Linked DNA regions of Homo sapiens. The protein of the gene in region 2 interacts with the protein of the main gene of each other region in a pairwise test. Each region holds a gene or a part of one and is shown on either strand. Other genes may lie near its edges.

Region 1 (6,931 bases), on a different chromosome or scaffold from region 2:
ACCCTGGTTACCCTGGTCAATCTCCCACTGGGATGGCTGCAATTGCCTCCTCACTGTCTGCCTGCTTCTGTTCTTGCCCCCTGCCAATCAATCCATTCTCAGTAGCCAGAAGGAGTGTTTAAAAATGTTAATTTGGGCCGAGGCAGGCAGATCACCTGAGGTCGGGAGTTTGAGACCAGCCTGACCAACATGGAGAAACCACGTCTCTACTAAAAATACAAAATTAGCCGGGCGTGGTGGCACATGCCTATAATCCCAGCTACTTGGGAGACTGAGGCAGGAGAATCGCTTGAACCTGGGAGGTGGAGGTTGTGGTGAGCCAAGATCAAGCCATTACACTCCAGCCTGGGCAACAAGAGCAAAACTCTGTCTGAAAAAAAAAAAAAAAAAAAAAAAGTTAATTTGGCCAGGCGCATGGTGCATGCCTGCAATCCCAGCACTTTGGGAGGCCAAGCCGGGTGGATCACCTGAGGTCAGGAGTTTGAGTCCCGTCTGACCAACATGGTGAAACCCGTCTCTATTAAATACAAAAAATTAGCCGGGCATGGTGGCGCATGCCTGTAATCTCAGCTACTTGTGAGGCTGAGGCAGGAGAATCGCTTGAACCCGGGAGGCAGAGGTTGCAGTGAGCCGAGATCGCGCCATTGCACTCCAGCCTGTGCAACAAGAGCAAAACTCAGTCTCAAAACACACACACACACACACACACACACAAAATGTTAATTTGCATCTTGTCACCCTTCTGCCTGCTCACATGCTCCAGTGCTGTCCCGTGGGGCTTAGAATAAACTCTAAACACCTGCTAGAGGTTGCAGTGAGCTGAGATCATGCCACTGCACTACAGCCTGGGCAACAGAGTGAGACCGGGACTCAAAACAAAACAAAACAAAACAAAAAACACCTCCTAGGCCCACAAGGGCCCATGTGCACAGGCTCGTCTGCCCCACCGCTCTCTGTCCCCTGTACTCACTCTATTCTAGTCACACGGAGTCCTCCAAACATGTCAGCTCATGCCTCTGTCCCCAGAGCTTCCTGTACCTGGGTCCGCCTTATTACTTAGGTCTTGGCTAAGATGACACCTCATAAAAGCCTTCCTTGACCACCCTATCTGTATCAGGACTTCCAACCCAATCATTCTCTGACCTTTCCCTGGGTTTCCTTCTCCAGACGACTTGCCTTGTGGTCTGGCAAACAATTATCTTGTTTGGTACTAGGTTCCTTATGCGTCTGGTCATGGCCTCGGGGAGGTAGGATAGGCCATGCTTGGGAATTTGGGAGGCTGGGGAAGTGTGGAGCTGCCTATTCCTTTCACAGGCACAGCCTCTTGAAGTCCTCACCACATTCCGGAAAGATGGAAATCCTGATTCCCATTTTACAGGTGAAGAAGCGTGGCTGAGATGGGAAAGTTTACGGTATTCTTCAAGATTCCTTTCTACATATGCAAAGGTGCACCCAAAGCTTGTGTGGCCCCGGTTGTCAATGGCAAAGTAGCCGGATTTTGAACTCAGTTCTGTTGCAAGTGGTCCCAGCCATACCACACCGAACCCCTTACCAATTCAGAGACCTGAACCAAGGCCACACCGCCACCATGCAGCAGAGCCAGGATCCTAACTCAGGCTTGTCTCACCCAAATCTAGCATGCTGTCCTGGCACCATACTCTCCCCCTTCCCCAGGCACCATCAGGGAAATGAGGGAAGGGAAATTTCCTGGGTTCCCAGGCCACAGGCCGCAGAGAGATAAATACCCAACCCCAGCTAAACCTGGCAGTCAGGCCCACCCTGCTTCCTGTTGGGTGGCCCAAGGTTACTCAGGGTCATAGCTGAGGAGCCAGCCAGTCACTGGGATGTCCTTGGCTGGCTCTCCACTCTGAAGTCTCCTCCTGGGGTCAGGTAGCCACAGGCTCTGCCCTTGTGGAGCAGGCCCAGCCAAGATAGTGAGGAGAGCACACCCCACACTGTGTGCAGCACAGTTCAGCACTCTGAGCCTGTGCTTCAGGGGAAAGACCCCAGGCAAGTGTTTTAAATCCTCTAGGCCTTAACTTCCCCGTTTGCCAAAGGGGACACACAGTCACATTGGAAGCTGCTGTTAACACTTTTCTTTAATCTGGTTAACTCTCTGATCTAAATTATGGGACAAACTGGAGAGAAATATGGATCGCCACCCATCTTACAGCTGGGAAGAAGGAAGAAACCAGAGTCCTTGGTCACCACATGTCCAGACCTAACTCATCCCTAAGTCCAGTCAAACCTGTCTCTCAGATGCCTCAGACCTATCCTCTTGCTTTCTCCACAATGCTGAGGTTGCACTGTCATCATCTCTTGCCTGCATCACCAAACAAACTCCTCATCCACCTGTTTCCCAGCTTGTCCCCTTCACACTGCCCACAGCCAGAGCAAGCTTCTTAGGACAAAAAGCAAATCTGGGCCTTGCCTCGTGGCTCACGCCTGTAATCCCAGCACTCTGAGAGGCCGAGGTGGGCGGATCACCTGAGGTCAGGAGTTTGAGACCAGCCTGGCGAACACGGTGAAACCCGGTCTGTACTACAAATACAAAATTAGCCGGGCGTGGCGGCGCGCACCTGTAATCCCAGCTACTTAGGAGGCTGAGGCAGGAGAATCGCTTGAACCCAGGAGGCGGAGGTTGCAGTGAGTGGAAATTGCACCACTGCACTCCAGCCTGGGCAAAAAGAGCGAAACTCCGTCTCAAAAAAAAATAAATAAATAAAAAATAAAGCAAATCTGACCAGGACACTCTCCATCTCAACGCGTGTCCGTGGCTTCCTCCTTACGGTCTTACAAGACTCTGGGAGATCTGGCCTTTCCAGCCCCATCTCTTGCCCCTCTCTCCAACTGCCACAGTACAGCCAGATGTAGTTGCCTGAAACTTTCTGCGGGCACCACGATCTCCAGCCACCAGGTCTCTGGCAGCTCCCTATGCCTGGACCCTGCGTGACTCAGGGCACGCATCCTGTGGATGGCTTGGCTCCCTTTGTTCGAGACTTTCTGAGTCTGCGCCCCAACCCATGTCAGGTGCCTCTTATCCCCTGTTACAACTCTTACCCATAGATTTGTCGCTGCCTGTGTCCCTGTCTGCTTCTCCACCTGGTGGTCTTGAGCTGGGAGCATTTGGGAAGGGCAAGCCCACCAGGTTCTCCACTAGGTCCCAGCCTGGCTTAGTGGAGACTGCCCCTAAACATTTGGGGACTGGATGAATGAACCACAATATGCCGAGGGGCCTGGGAGGTACGAGGCTTTCGAGTGGGTTCTGCCCCCAGAACAGCTAACTAGTCAGTGAGACCAGTCACGCTGGGCAAGAAACTAAAGGACAACAGAAAGCTTAGATAACAGCTTGGAATGTTACAAGCTGGGTCACAAGGCTGCGTGATGGACTGAGCCAGAGCCACCTCCTCGGCGAAGCCTTCCAGACGCTTCTCTGCTCATTGCTGAGGGGCACTAGAGATTCAGGGCGAGCAAGCGACCTGCCAGGGGCTCTCTCTGGGCGCCAGCTTTCTGAGAAAGGAGACTCGCTACCTTCCGGGCCTGCTTCAGGGTTCTACGAGCTCAAGTCTGGCGGGACCCTGGAAGGCCGCTGCAGCCACAAACTGTTTCTCCTTGTCATTGTTTCTTCTTTTCTTCTGCTCGCGCTCTCCCTGCCCCGCCAGCCCTGCGACCTCCCACTGCCTTCCCAGGGCCCCTCTCCCTTCCCTCAGCCCCGCCCCGCCCTAGGAGGCGGGCCCGGCCGCGCGGTGCACCAATCCGAGAGCCCCGAGCCGCCTCTGCCTCCCGCGAGTCCCACCCCACGCCACCGCCCACCAATCGCGCTGCGCGCCCGCCTAGCCGGGCCGCGCAATAGCGGGAGGGCTGAGCCGCCGGCGCCCCGCCCCTGCCGTGCTCGGCGGCGGCTAGGCGGGCGGCCGCGCGGGGCCCAGGCATTCTCCAAGCGGCGCCTCGCAGCATCGGGCTCTGGCTGCAGCGTCGGGGCCGCAGGGGGCGGCGCTGCTGCTCGAAGGGTGCCGGGCGAGGCGGGCGCCACCGGCCGGGCCGAAGGGCGCCTCAGCTCCGCCGGGGCCCGCGGCGCGGGTCCCAGGATCGAGGAGGAGGCGGCGCCTCCGCTGCCCGGGGCCGGCCCGGTGCCTGCCCTGAGGAGGCCCGAGGCCGGACGTTCCCGGCCCGCAGCGACCCCGACGCGCCTCCTGGAGAGGCCCCCGAGCTCCTGGCAGCCCCCTGGGGGTGCCCCACCTTCCCCGGCTTCACCTGCGCTGGCCGCCCGGCACCCAGGTGCGGGGGCGTGAGCGGCGAGGGCACCTCCCCCGGCCGCCAGCGGGGCGGGGGCGGGGCCGCCCTCCGCCCTCAGCCTTACCGGCCAGCCAGCCCGCCCGCCGCCCTCAGTCTCACCGGTCCGCCCGGCCGCGCGGCGTGAGCTCCCCGGACATCGCGTCTCGGGATGCTGCAAGCCAGCGCGGCCGCTCGCGCGCAGCCCCGCACCTCCGCCCCTGCCTCTGCCTCCTGGGCCATGCCCTGCTGTTTACATGCCGGTGAGGTCCCCGGCCGCTCCGAACCCCTCCGAGCCCCGGCTCCCCGAGGGTGAAGCCCGCCGGCCCGCGAACTGGACTGGTGGATCTCTCAGACCTGGGGCCCCGGACTCCGATCTCCGCCGTCTCCGCCACCATCAGGGCGGGATCCGGCTCTGGTGTTTTGAGGAGGGGGTGTGGTGTAGGGAAAGGAATCCCGTCCCTCTCCACCTTTTTTCGCCTTCGGGGCTTCAGACTCAGGGAACTCGCTCATGGCTTTCTTGATGAAGAAGAAGAAATTCAAATTCCAAACTACTTTCACCCTGGAGGAGCTGACTGCGGTTCCCTTCGTGAACGGGGTCCTCTTCTGCAAGGTCCGGCTGCTGGATGGAGGGGATTTTGTCAGCTTGTCGTCAAGGTAGGAGCTGGGGCGGTCGCGCCTGCAGCAGCGGGGGTGATGAGCGAGACCTAGACACTTGGCAAGTGTGGAAGGGCCCCTTGGGGCCGGTGTGAGGAGGATCCGGGGGATTCTGTGTGCCTGGGGCAGGTTGCACAAGGCAGGACTGGGCCTGAGGCAGTTGGCAGGGTGCCAGGCAGCCGCCAGCCAAATACCTGGGGGTCTAGTCTTTCAGCCTTCTCTTGGGGCCCTGCGTGCCGCCTGCAGTAGGTCCATTCTGCAGACTTGCATGTACAGCCTATCAGGGATTTGTACCCTGAGCGATTGTGCAGGGGAGGGGTGTTCAGGCCACCTTGCACCCGAACTGGCCACTGGGGCTGTCATATGATTCAAGAGTCCAGGCCAGCCACGGGTTCCCCGGCACCCCCAGGCGCCTGGGAAGGCCCGATCGCAGGCACTCCCTAGTCTGGCTGGAGGGAGGTGGCTGGATTTTGGCCTACCCAGCCCCCTCCGAGTGACTATCCTCCTCTGGCTGGAGCTGGGCTGCTTTGCATTGCAAATACCCTTGTCGAGGAGGCTGCTGCCCTCTCTGAAAGAGGCTCCGTTGAGTTTGGTTTTGTGTTGTTCGTCCCCATCCTGGCAGGTCCAGCTGCCCAGCTTGTTGCTGAATGCAACTGAGTTCCCAGGCTGTCCCTTGCCAATTGGGCCCAGCTGGGGTCACATCATCCTGGCCTGTCTCCGAAGAGCCTTGGACTTCTACAGATGGGAGTGTGACTCTTGACTCTGTTACTTTCTGGGCCTCCTCTTCTGGAAAGTGAGCCTAATACAGGTGGAGAAGCTGCAGCAGCGAGAACTTAGGGCAGGCTGGATGCTGTGGCTTACTCCTGTAATCCCAGCACTTTGGGAGGCCTACGTGGAAGACTTGCTTGAGGCCAGGAGTTCAAGACCAGCGTGGACGACTTAGATTCCTGTCTCTATTTTTTTTTCTTTTTTGGGGGGACGCGATTTAACTCTGTTGCCCAGGCTGGAGTGCAGTGACACAAGCATGGCTCACTGCAACCTCTACCTCCCGGGTTCAATCAATTCTCATATCTCAGTCTCCTGAATAGCTGGGATTACAGGTGCCAACCACCACACCCAGCTAATTTTTTTTAAATTTTAATTTTGTTTATTTTTTAGATGGAGTCTCACTCTGTTGCCTAGGCTGGAATGCAGTGGCGTGATCTTGGGTCACTGCAACCTCCACCTCCTGGGTTCAAGCGATCCTCCTGCCTCAGCGTCCTCAGTAGCTGAGATTACAGGCGCACGCTACCACGATAATTTTTTTGTATTTTTAGTAGAAATGGGGTTTTACCATGTTGGCGAGGCTGGTCTCGAACTCCTGACTGCAAATGATCCACCCCGCACCCCGCCCCCTGGCCTTCTAGAGTGCTGGGATTACAAGTGTGAGCCACTGCACCCGGCCTCTCTCTTTTTAAAAAATAAAAATGAAATAAAATAGTATGCGGGCAGGGCCTGGCCGAGTGCCTGGGACACGCTGCTTCCCTACCTGGTCTGCCCTTTGCTCCCTGGGCCTCCTTGTGGGCCCTGTTAGCCAGAGCTGCCTCCCTGTTCTGAGAGCCCATGTGTGCGTGTTATAGGCGGAGAAACTGAGGCCCAGAAAGAGGAAGTCAGTGGCTTGCCAGGGACCTCGAAGGAGTCTGTTATTAACTGAACTTCGCTGGTTTGGGGGCCTGCTGGCTGAATCCAGAGGTCAAACACTCTGCTGGGAGGAGGGGAAGGGAGGGGAACTGCACAGCCAGGCTCAGATTTAGGAATCTCCGGTGTGGACAGGGTGGGGTGCTTTTTCTGAGCACTGGCTCCCTGTTCTGTTGGGAGCTGCTTATCTGAGGAATTTGGACAAGGGCTGCCCCTTGTGGTGGGGGTGGCTGGCCTCCTTGGTTGCCTGGGAAGCCTGTGATCCTGAGGCCACCCACACAGCAGTCTGAGGTTTCAGAGAGAAGGCTGTGCTCACAGCTAGGGC
Region 2 (8,680 bases):
CATTGGGGCTGGCTGCCCCACAACAGGCAGCTCTTGCCTGGCAGATGGCACCAGGGTTAGGAACACTCGCTCCTGACAGCGAGCCCAGAGGCGCCCTCTGGTGAGCCTCCCCGTGGCGCCCAGCTCTGCCGCAGACTCTCGGTCCCCTCCGTGCTCAGCAGTGTGCTGGTGTGGAGACCGCAGTGAGTAGGGCCCCAGCGGGCAGGAGCCCACGCTTGGTTTCCGCGCTTGCGGCCGGCGCTGCACGTGGCCCGGCTGCCTTGCTTTTCCCGTGTTTCCCTTGTGGCTGCTCATCCCTGTGTCCATCTGTGCTGGTTTCTAGCCCATAAGCCTTGGAGAGAAGGGGCCTTACAGGGTTGTGTCCCCTGCCCAGTGCCTGGCCCGTGGGGGACCATCAGTCACCACAAGGGACTTGGCTGGAGCTGAGCAGAGGGACCCGGGTAGTTAGGGCACAGCCTCCCGGGTGTCAGGGGTGCGAGGAGTCAGGCGGTTGTGGGGGTTCAGGAAGTCGTCCTGGGGCTCAGGAAGGCAGGGTCCTGGATTCCCAGGTGAGATGGGCAGGTGGGGCCAGGGCCAGAGCCAGAGGCCACCAGGTGGGTCTTTGGTACCGTGGCGGGTCCCCAGCCCCTCCCCTCAGAGGCAGGATGTGGTCCTCGCCGGTAGGGCCTCTCCTCCTGCCCTGTGAGAGGCAGGGGGCTGGGGAAGGGCCCTGACGGAGCCACTCCTGCCAGCCTGCACACTGGGTCCTGCCTGGGCAGGTCGTGGGGCCGGGGTGGCCTCCGCCCAGAAGGTGTGGTTTCGCAGCCCGCTGGCTTCAGTTCTCCTCCCGGCTTCCCAGAAGAGTCCAGTCTCACATCAGCCACTCATTTCCCTCTCCGGCAGCCGCTGGCTCTGAGCACGCCCTCTCTCGCCACAATCAAAAGAAGTGAAACTGTCCCAGGAAATAGAGTGGAACGCCCCAAAAACACCTAGGGAGGGGGGGCTCCTTCCTCCTAATGCCTTCAGCAGAAATGGAGGGCAGCCCCACTCTCCTGCCCCGCAAGGGACAGTTCCTGCTTCTCACCTGTGCCAGAGTCAGCCCTCCCGCGGTGGGTGTGACGAGGTGATTTTTTTTTTCTTTCTTCTTTCTTTTGAGATGGAGTCTTGCTCTGTCGCCTAGGCTGGAGTGCAGTGGCTGGATCTCTGCTGACTGCAAGCTCCACCTCCCGGGTTCACACCATTCTCCTACCTCAGCCTCCCGAGTAGCTGGGACTACAGGCACCCGCCATCAGGCCCGGCTAATTTTTTTGTATTTTTAGTAGAGACGGGGTTTCACTGTGTTAGCCAGGATGGTCTCGATCTCCTGACCTCATGATCCGCCTGCCTCAGCCTCCCAAAGTGCTGGGATTACAGGCATGAGTCACCGCGCCCGGCCAACGAGGGGATTTTTAAGAAGCTTCCAAGGTGCTGTGTGGCTGAGTTGAGAGCCACCAACCCACAGGCAGGAAAGGGACAGGGGTCAGAGGCATGGGGCCTGTGCTCACTGAATGCCCGGCACACCCCGCACATGAAGGCAGGTGGACAGAAAGGGTCCCGATGCGTGGGTGAGGACAGTCCCGTGGTGTGGGGGCTTCCAGAGCCAAGCCTTGGAGGAGGGCCAGGAATTCCTTGGCAAAGGGGCTGGTGTCTTTTTGGGCAGGTTGCCAGGACACAAGACCAGCCGTGTACTCCGGGCAGGCTACCTTTTGCAGAACTTGGGGTTGGGGGCATTTGCACTCATGGTGCCTTGGGCTGTGACCTCCAGGCATGGGCTAGAGGGTACACCAGGTGCCTGGCGTGGGCAGAGCCCCAGGCTCAAGCTTCTCCTGCCCCCGCACTTCCTGCTCTTGGGTCACTTCCTCCCAGGCTGGGTCCTAAACTCCTGACTGCCCTGCTGGACACCCCCCAGCCCCACACAGCCAACGCAGTGTGGCACCACACGGACCCTCATGGCATCCCTTGGCCACGTCTTGTGACAGCTCGGGGCAGGCAAGCACCAATCAGACCTGGGGAGCACCAGGGGCACAGGCCATGGCCCACGGCACGCAACACCTCACTCTCCTGCCCAGGCCGTGTGTGCACGTCTTCACACAAGTGATCAGACCCGGGATGTTAAATTTGCCGATGACTTCAGAGATGGCACACCCTGTGACACTTGGCCCCCAGAGGGCAGGGCCAAGCTTGTGACCTCAGGCGGCCTCCCTCTGGGAGCCTCCATTTGTGGCAGGGCCTGGCAGCCACTCGGCTCTTCATGAAGCGCTGTGTGCTGGGAAGGGCCTCACACTGTCCATCCTCACTCTGTGCGGCATCCCTTGGCGCCAGGCACACATGGGATACGTGGGGTGAAGAAAGCAACGCCTGTGCTCAGACAGCGGTGCTGGGGTTCAGTGGTTCCCGCCATGTTCCATGGGACATTTCAGGGCTGTTTTTCGCATCCCAGGCGCTGTCAGAGGGAGTGGTTTGGGAATTCAGTGCTTGCTTCTGCCTTCCCACCACACGAGGAAAGACGCTGTAAGTGCCTGTCATTGTCATCGCTTTCACCGTAGCTGAGAGCCGTGAGGACCAAGGTGTGCCAGGCCTGTGTTGACTGCCTTGTGAAACTCAGTGTCCACATGGGGCAAGGGCTGGGCTGTCCCATCCTGCAGACACGGGCACCAGAGCACAGGAGAATGGCGGCCTCCCTGCCCGGCTGCCTGCACCTCTTCTCGTAACTGTCAGCTCCTGCTGCCTCTCCCAGCCAAGCTGGCAGGATTTTTTTTTTTAAGTAGACCCCACATACTCAAGGATGGGGGCAGATCCCCACATTGCTATCTGTGGGGATGTTTGTGTAGGCGCTTCTGGAAGCAGTGTCTTCTGAGCCATGTGTTCTCAGGCTGAGGCTCTGGACTCCACCGTGGCCCAGATGGGGCCTACTGTGGCAGGGTCCCCAGTGGGTATGTGAGTGGCAGTCGGGACACACACAGGTGGGCAGGCCACCCCCACCCTCCCCCTCCCCCTGCAGGCCCACCCTGCTCTGCAGGCAGCGTGTGGCCCTGGGGTGCCCACGGCAGTGCCTGAGGTGTGTGTCCTGATCACTTGGCCTCCTGCCTCCAGCTGTGGATGCGATGTGGCTGGAAGGCGGCTCAGGGCCTCCTGTCCTCTTCTTCCTCCTACCCCTGGGCTCACAGCGTTTCCCCTCTTCTGTCCTCTAGCTGGTCAGTGAGAAGGTCGGAGGGGCCGAGGGGACCAAGCTGGATGATGACTTCAAAGAGATGGAGAAGGTGAGGAAGAAACTGCGTGCTCTGTGTGGTGGTGGCACTGCTGGGGCCTGACCTCTGCCGGGCATAGTGGAGGCGGCCAACCTTGATGGGCCTGGGTCTGGAGTGATGGGGCCCGGCAGGTGTGGAGAGATGGGGTGGTGTGGGGGCCTCGTCAGCTGGACTTGACGGGCACCAGCTCTCTCCCCTGCCGTGGGCAGGCAGCTGTGGGGACATGGCTGAGCTGAAGACATGGAGAGGGGGTTGGGGGGTCCTGGTATGGGCTCTTAGGGCAGGAGGCGGTGCAGCAGCGGGGGTCTTGTGTGCCTTGGGCCCCCACTGGCTGTGGAGTCTTATATGCTGCTTCTCTTCACAGAAGGTGGATGTCACCAGCAAGGCGGTGACAGAAGTGCTGGCCAGGACCATCGAGTACCTGCAGCCCAACCCAGGTGGGTGCTCCAGCCACTGCCAGGGCCTGCCCCAGGCCCTCTGGCCTCTGTGTCAGAGGGAAGGCAGGGGATGACAGAACCGCCAGGCTCATGGGTTGTGGGCTTCAGGCACAGCTGGATCCCGGAGTGCAGAGGCCATCCTTGGTGCTGCATGCTGCCTTTCCACCTCAACCAGCAGCTCAGCCCCTCTGTTGGCTTCACTCTCATGCCGACTGGTTCCTCAGGGCCGTCCCAGCCTTCAACCCCTCTTCCAGCCAGCAGTCCTGGCAGGGAGCCTCTCCCCCAGCTTACTTGTGGGATCCATTTGTATTGGCCGCCCCTCCCCAGTGCCCCTGGCCTGGACTTCACCTCTTGGGCTTGGGACTGGGTCTCCCTGGCTGAGAGACGGGCTTTTCCCCAAGGAAAACCCAAATGCTGGCTCCATAGGAGGCCACGGACAGGGGGCAGACGCACACCCAGCAGTGTCCACTCAGGCCCTGCCAGGAGCAGACCCAAGCGGGCAGCGGAAGGGACACAGCTCATCACCCACCCCGGGAGCCTTGGCCTCAACCACCCCCCGCTGCACATCACTGCTGCGCCTCCTCCCTGGCACCCCCCAGATGAGGGGTCATAGCCACGTTCCAAGAGGAGCAGCCCTTGGAAGGAGGAGGTTTTGCCCCCTGAGGAGCTTGGTCACCTCTCCACCCGCTGCCAGCTCCTTTGAGGCTAGCAGGAGCAGGGAAGGGACCCTCTGGGGATTCCACTGTGCTTTGTGTGGCCTAGGCTGTCCACAGGCACAGGAAGCAAGGGTGGGGAGGAGATGTGGGGGCTGCAGTCTGCCAGGGCAGAGGAGTGCAGGCCTCACAGCCCACACCCACCTGGCCATCCTATCCCAGCCTCGCGGGCTAAGCTGACCATGCTCAACACGGTGTCCAAGATCCGGGGCCAGGTGAAGAACCCCGGCTACCCGCAGTCGGAGGGGCTTCTGGGCGAGTGCATGATCCGCCACGGGAAGGAGCTGGGCGGCGAGTCCAACTTTGGTGAGTGGTGCTCTCTGGAAGCCACGCCCACCGTCCCTGGAGGCCACACCTCAACACAGGCAGGGCAGGTCCAGGCCCTGCATGTGCTGAGTGCCGGGGACGTACAGTGGCCCCCACAGCTTTCCAGCTGCAGAGGTGCAGGAGACTGCACAGACCAACCCATCCAGCACTGGCCAGCAGCTGATAGGGCCCCTTCCTGTAGCTCCAGACCTTCCCCAACTCAAGCCAGCTGCTTCCCCAGGGCCTGGACCCCCCAGCATCTGTCCTTCCACCTGTTAAGGGCAAACCTAGGCCCTTTTAGGAGCATTGGAGGGTCTGGTTTAACGTCCAGCATCGATTCGGATTTTAGGATCCTTTGTTTTGCCCTGAGTTCCAATTTCCGGGCCCTGGGCTTAGAGTGTTGGGGGGCTGTTAGAAGTTGGGATGGGGCCAAGTGTGGTGGCTCATGCCTGTAATCCCAACACTTTGGGAGGCCAAGGCAGGTGGATCACCTGAGATCGGGAATTCGAGACCAGCAAGACCAATATGGAGAAACCCCACCCCGCTTCTACTAAAAAAAAAAAAATATATATATATATATATACACACACACACACACACACACACACACACACAATTAGCCGGGTGTGGTAGTGCATGCCTGTAACCCCAGCTACTCGGGAGGCTGAGGCAGGAGAATCACTTGAACCCAGGAGGTGGAGGTTGCAGTGAGCCGAGACTATGAAAAAACAAAACAAAACAAAACAAAACAAAAACCGGGTGCGGTGGCTCACGCCTGTAATCCCAACACTTTGGGAGGCCGAGGCGGGCGGATCACAAGGTCAGGAGTTCGAGACCGGTGTGGTCTATATGGTGAAACCCCGTCTCTATTAAAAATACAAAAATTAGCTGGATGTGGTGGCAGGCCCCTGTAATCCCCCTTACTCAGGAGGCTGAGACAGGAGAATTGCTTGAACCTGGGAGGCAGAGGTTGCAGTGAGCTGAGATCATGCCACTGCACTGCAGCCTGGGCAACAGCGAGACTTCATCTCAAAGAAGTTGGAAAGGATCCAGGTGTGGGGGTGAACGCCTGTGGTCCCGGCTACTTGGGAGGCTGAGGTGCCAGCATGGCTTGAGCCCAGTTTGAGGCCTGCAGTGAGCTGGTACAGCGCCACTGCGTTCCAGCCTGTGAAACGCTATTTCAAAAACAAAGGCTGAGGAGTGTCTCAGTCTAGTGGTCCCAGGCCCGGTATGATGGCTTCCCCCACCACTTCTCCACAGGTGACGCATTGCTGGATGCCGGCGAGTCCATGAAGCGCCTGGCAGAGGTGAAGGACTCCCTGGACATCGAGGTCAAGCAGAACTTCATTGACCCCCTCCAGAACCTGTGCGAGAAAGACCTGAAGGAGATCCAGGTGCTGCTCCTGCGCCAGCCTGGGGCCTGTCCCTTCCCCCTGCCGGATGGGGCAGCCCCATTCCTGCCACCCTCACCTCCAGCCTCGGCACTGCCCTCTGGGTCTCAGGCAGGCAGGATCCCCAGTGGTGCAGGGACAGTGGGTCAAAGCCATGCGTGGGGCGGCCCTCTGGCCGCTACTGGTGTGACCCATGTCCCCCACGTCTCCAGCACCACCTGAAGAAACTGGAGGGCCGCCGCCTGGACTTTGACTACAAGAAGAAGCGGCAGGGCAAGATCCCCGATGAGGAGCTACGCCAGGCGCTGGAGAAGTTCGAGGAGTCCAAGGAGGTGGCAGAAACCAGCATGCACAACCTCCTGGAGACTGACGTGAGTAGCTCGGGGTGTCACATCCTGAGAAGACCTATGCCCTTGGGAGGCCGGGGTGGTGCCTCAAGGGAGCTGGAGGACAGATCGGCACCTACCTGGCCGCTGCAGCAGGGGAGGTGGAGGGTATGGGCCCCAGTCCCCTGTCCCCTCTCAGCCCCCTTGCCTCCTGTGGCTTCACCTCGGGAGTCAGGGAAGGCACAGGACAGTGGCACTGGCAGGAGCCCCTGAGCCCTACTGTCCCCACAGATCGAGCAGGTGAGTCAGCTCTCGGCCCTGGTGGATGCACAGCTGGACTACCACCGGCAGGCCGTGCAGATCCTGGACGAGCTGGCGGAGAAGCTCAAGCGCAGGTGAGCCCAGGGCCTTGGTCTCTCCAGAGTCTGGGCTGCCATGCGCCCTCTGCCAGCGCAAGTGGGCAGCACACCTCGCTGTGGGGTGAGCACATGGCAGAGCAGCATCCTGGATTCTTCCTGGGGACTGAGTGGAAAGGCCTGGGGGGCCGCGAGGTCAGAGGAGCTGGGGCTCTGAGAACTCTGAGTCAACACCCAGCCCTGCCCCGATGCAGGCCCCGGGGACTCCCTCCCTGGCTGCACGTTGCTGCTGCCACAGGAACACCCAGGCTCCCCTCCCTGAATGCAGAGGCCAGACCTGCTTCAGGGGCCTTGGCGTATGTGGGGCGCCGTCCGTGGTGGGGAATTGGGGGAGGAGGCAGGGGATGCGACTGGGGGTGTTGTAGGTAGATGCTGTGGCAGGCCCCAGCTGCTTGGCAATCTCTGGGATGCCTCCAAGGTGGGGGTCCAGGCTGGAGGCCCTCTGGGTAGACATCCCAGTCTAGCTGTGTCCCAGGGTCCATGTGTCACAACCCCACTGACGGCCTCTTCCTGCAGTCCCAGGCCAGGTCATTAGGCAGCAGCATAAATACAAGAGTGGGGCTGCCTCGGCCGTGACACGGGCTCGGTCCACTCACGCCTCTCCCTTCACAGGATGCGGGAAGCTTCCTCACGCCCTAAGCGGGAGTATAAGCCCAAGCCCCGGGAGCCCTTTGACCTTGGAGAGCCTGAGCAGTCCAACGGGGGCTTCCCCTGCACCACAGCCCCCAAGATCGCAGGTAATGGGGCATGGAGCCCTCTTGCGGAGGCAAATGCCAGCGGGTGGGAGTGGCCAAGGGCTGGCCCTGTCCTGGGTCTCTGAGCGCCAGACTCCTGGGTGCAGCTCTCAGCCGTGCTCCATCTGGACCGCCAAGGCAGACGGGAAGGGCTGGCCCCAGCCTTCTGCAGAAGGGGCCCTGCCCGACCGTTTTGAGCCCACAGCCTCCTCGTTTTGCTTGTGTTTAGCTTCATCGTCTTTCCGATCTTCCGACAAGCCCATCCGGACCCCTAGCCGGAGCATGCGTGAGTGTTCCCAGGCCCGCCTCGACCTCAGTGCTGCCTTCTCGGCCATTCGGGGAGGGTGTTTCTCCTCCCGCCCTGTTCTCTGCCCATCTCAAGCAGGGAGGGGCCAGGCTCGTGCAGCAGTAGGGGGCACAGGCCCCACAGCCTGCAAGATGCCACCCCTCTGGGTCTCAGCCTCACAGTGTGAATGAGGGATTGCCAAGGGCACTAGCCCAGCTAGCTCTAGGCTGTGTGGTGGCTACAAGGGCTTGAGGGCATCTGGTCACTCCCTGTCACCGCAGCAGCACCGGGTGTCCCCAGCACTTCCCAGGAGTAGCTTTGGTGACCACTTAAACCAAGCTTCTCCCATCCTCCCTCCTGGGTGGCAGTAGAGGCCGGACCCCAGAAGTGGCAGGGGCAGGGGGTGGCCCAGGCAGGGCAGAGGGGAGGCCCATGCCCACCCACACGCTCCAGGTCACAGCAGGTCTGAGACCCCAGACTGGGCGGGGTGAGGCGTAGCAGCCCCAGCCCCACAGCCCGCTCCCGCCCCCAGCGCCCCTGGACCAGCCGAGCTGCAAGGCGCTGTACGACTTCGAGCCCGAGAACGACGGGGAGCTGGGCTTCCATGAGGGCGACGTCATCACGCTGACCAACCAGATCGATGAGAACTGGTACGAGGGCATGCTGGACGGCCAGTCGGGCTTCTTCCCGCTCAGCTACGTGGAGGTGCTTGTGCCCCTGCCGCAGTGACTCACCCGTGTCCCCGCCCCGCCCCTCCGTCCACACTGGCCGGCACCCCCTGCTGGGTCTCCTGCATTCCACGGAG
Region 3 (3,766 bases), on a different chromosome or scaffold from region 2:
ATATGGTGCATTCAGTTTACTCCACAAGTGGTTAACATTTTAAGTCCTAGATTTTTTATGTCTTGCCTTTGTATAAGCATCGCTTTGGGGAATACCAAGATGATTCATTATTCAGTGATTATTTTCTTGAAAGATAACTATGATGATTGGCTGTAAAATCTTCACCCTAATAAAGGAGTGAGATCTCTGTGTAAACAGCTTTCTGAAGGACTGATAATAGAATAGAACTTGCAGCCAAAGGCTTTTTCCCTTTTGAGAAGACGGTATTTGTGTAAGGAGTGCTAAGGTAGACTTCATTGTACATAGAGTGCCATATTCTGTTGAAACGATCATAACAAAATCAAAACCTCATGCTTCAGCAAAAAGGAAAAAAGATTTTTAAATTACTTTGTCTATTACTTACTGCTCATAGAGAAGTGACTATATAAAATGGTCCAATTTTCTCATTTCTGGTGGTGCCTGTGAGTCTTAAAGCCATATCTGCTTATCTTACTGTTGATAGAATACTTTTTTTCTTTTTAGCCCATGATAAGTAATATGGGCAGGTAGAAGCAAACTGGAGACTGTCCTGTTAATGCTGCATGGGGCACAATGTCTTTCAAATTATTGGTGGAAGAATCTCTTTTATCCATGGCGAGAGGTAAGAATATTAAAGAGTCAGGATATTGTTGCTCCTGGTATTTAACAACTGTCATTAGAAATGCTGAAATTTAATTGTAGAGAAGTCAAGAAAGAAAGAGTAAACTGAGAAAATCTTACTACTACAGAGTCACTTTTACAATGAGACCTGCACTTTATGCCAGCACTGTTTGTGAGGAGCAGTACTGCCTTAAATTAGTTTGACTCTGACTGATGTCAGTGTACGTTACTTCCTTTATGTGACTGACAGTCAGCTTTCCATTGAGATATAACATTCACAGATGATCCCCAAGTATCCTTGTCATCAGAAGCTTTGGACCTTTTCTGCCACTGACTTGTGGCTGATCTGTAACACAATAAATACATAATTTTATTTCATGTTGTCTGTCCACCTCTGAATAAGCAGTGGCATGACCAAAAAGACTGGTAGAAGGAGAGAATTTCTTGGCCAAATCCTTCATACCAGGTACCACTTCTTGAGTAACTGAGAGTTGACTGTCTTCTATGGTGACTACATAGAAGATATTTCCAAAGGTTCTGTTATGCAGTGAAGACATTCAGATTATTTGTAAGAATTTCACCAACACCCTTGTGTATTGAAATGCTTAACCATTAACAGGGAAAAAAAAGGAGAAAACCGAACAAAACAGAGACATTTACTTGAAATGGGAGGTTTGCTAATGTGAAGAGTGTTTCTGTTTTATTACTTATAAGAGAAAAGCAGGAAAACTTTTGCTTTGATAAGAAAGACACCAGAGTGGTGATTCTGTTTGATGCCACAGGCTAACACAATCGTGTAATCATGTTGAGTTGTAGAAATATATGGCCCTAAAAACCATTCTCTTTCCCTTATATATATAAATATGTGAACACTGCCTAGTAACATTTTAATAGATTTAAGATGCATTTGTACATTCTCAGCAAACTAGAAGAAAATGTTTTTTCTCTTTTTGAGTTAACTTCATAGCATAGAGAACCAGCACTGTGCAGGTTTCAGCATTTCAGATAAGGGCATAATTAATTGTGTAACTTAATGCCCTGTTATTCATTGCTGAGGTTCATATAAAGAATAGAAAAATTGAAAGATGGGTTTGGGCGACATTTTCTTCCCAAAAGATCAAGTAAGGAGTAAGAACAAGTAAGGGAAGACAGCTAAGAGAACATACTATGACATATCATAGAATTGGGATACATTTTTGTTGCACTGGATTTCAGGCTATACTGCTAAAATAATTTCTACCTGTTAAATTTTGTGAGAGGGTTTTTGACATCAGAATTTTTGTATTTCTGGTCAAATTGGTCTTGGAAATCCCTATGGTCTCTAATTTCAGCTCTTGCTGTAAACTGCAAGCCAAATGCTCTTTCTCAGAAAGAGCTATATTTTTCTCTTCTTACAGGCAACCCAATATTTATTTCATAAAGTGTTATAAATATTGAGAAGATACACTGGGGAGATAGCATATAAAAATGATGCTCCAAAATGAGAATTCTATATGGGGCTTTCCCTAAGAAGAATCCATCCCAGCACATATTTTGAAAAGGTGCTGAATTAAAAAGTACAAGAGTTTGCTCATATAAATCAAGTTGCCCAGGAAACCTGAGGTGATGCTATCATTTGTCTCATAATTTAGAAACGTGATCTCTTGAGAGAGAGACTACGCATTGCCTGGGCACTTTCAGATTCCTTAGGAAGTGCCCCTTTGATATTTGGAATGTGGATATATTTATAAAACAAATGGATTGTTATTCCAAATCCACATGGATTTATAACCAAGCCCCAGAAGAATAGGCAGCTTTGAAATAGCTAGTTCGTGGAATTGAACAGAACCTTGATGGAATGCAGTTGCCTGTGTGAGGACAGAAAACAAAGAGGCTGCCTCAGACCACATGCCTATCTAGAGATTAAGTGAATTTGTGAGGGACATTTTGTGGATGCCTTAAAGATGACCAGTGGTGGGTTCTGATGGGAATATATACACTCATCTGGACTAGGCCAATGGAAGCAGTCTCTTTCAGTTCACCTCCGTACAGCACAAGTTGTTCCTGCTCATGACCTCATTGAGGAAAATGAGAATTGTGGTGCTGGTGACTTTCATGTGTCTTGGGAGGTTGAGGTGTTCAACATCGTTAAGGCACTCCCAAAACGCAAACCTCCTTTTTTAAATGCCAATTGTACATCTACATTAATTCATCTATGCAAACTTGTGTTTTCATGGTTTGTTTTTTACACTATATTTCTCATTAGGTTCTTTAAACATCAGGTTTAATATTGATATTATGAATAATTTTTAAACCAAAGTATTCTATAAGTCTGTGTGCTTTGTTTTCCTGGATGGTTTGACCAAGGTAAACATCAGTCTTGTCCTTCTCTCTTAATAAAGTCATCCATTTGTTAAGTCAGTGGTCTCTGTCTCATGTTTTTGTTTTGTTTCTTTACAGCATTCAAGGACAGGGAAACTTACGAGAGTCTTATTATAATTATTATTATTTACAAAATGACCCTAATAGGTCTGTTTAGTAACAGTGAAATTTTTTCTTACTCCATTTCCATACACTTTCTGTAAATATGTATAACATGATAATGATGCCTGGTGTATTGAAATCCTCAATAAATACTGCCAAGTGTGGATCAGTTGGAGAAGTAGCTTTGTTTTGTGTGTGGTGTTTCGTGGTTTGATTGATATATTTGGGAGGAAAAAAAACAGGTAAGTGGATGTTCACACAATAATTCCAGTGATTAAAGACCCCATGCACAACTCTGCACTATACCTGACACCTTGTGGACACTTCAATGTATTTTGAGAAATGGATATTAATAACTGATTTATTCAATATTTTACCTTCATAAGAATTTTTTTTTTCTTATTTGGTTTGATAGAATAGCCACAATGTAGGAAATGATTCTGCAAAAATTAGGTATCTTAAATATAATATTTTCAATGACTACTAAATTTATTTTTAAAGATGTCACTATTTAGCCACCCCTACAGTAGATTCTCTAGGCCTCAGATTCCTCTGTGGCAAATATAGCAGGAAATCTAAATGATTTCTGTAGTCTCTGCTAGATCCTGAGTAGTACCAGTGATGTGCAGGTGATACTGTTTTATTTAGTTGAAGATTAGTATGT

What was found. The genes of interacting proteins can lie anywhere in the genome.
Region 1: the proteins of SH3GL1 (region 2) and EEIG1 interact in binary tests that used the Homo sapiens proteins (3 or more experiments, as listed by UniProt).
Region 3: the proteins of SH3GL1 (region 2) and CCDC50 interact in binary tests that used the Homo sapiens proteins (3 or more experiments, as listed by UniProt).

What each region holds. Positions count from the first base shown.
Region 1 is NC_000009.12:127,977,990-127,984,920, reverse strand, and holds the start of EEIG1 (early estrogen-induced gene 1 protein), read left to right. Parts: upstream 1-3,931; 5' UTR 3,932-4,783; coding exon 4,784-4,929; intron 4,930-6,931. UniProt on the Homo sapiens protein: Key component of TNFSF11/RANKL- and TNF-induced osteoclastogenesis pathways, thereby mediates bone resorption in pathological bone loss conditions.
Region 2 is NC_000019.10:4,361,524-4,370,203, reverse strand, and holds part of SH3GL1 (endophilin-A2), read left to right. Parts: intron 1-3,209; coding exon 3,210-3,278; intron 3,279-3,630; coding exon 3,631-3,703; intron 3,704-4,578; coding exon 4,579-4,722; intron 4,723-5,982; coding exon 5,983-6,116; intron 6,117-6,325; coding exon 6,326-6,484; intron 6,485-6,730; coding exon 6,731-6,834; intron 6,835-7,467; coding exon 7,468-7,592; intron 7,593-7,818; coding exon 7,819-7,875; intron 7,876-8,407; coding exon 8,408-8,604; 3' UTR 8,605-8,680. UniProt on the Homo sapiens protein: Implicated in endocytosis. May recruit other proteins to membranes with high curvature.
Region 3 is NC_000003.12:191,395,394-191,399,159, forward strand, and holds the end of CCDC50 (coiled-coil domain-containing protein 50 long isoform), read left to right. Parts: 3' UTR 1-3,266; downstream 3,267-3,766.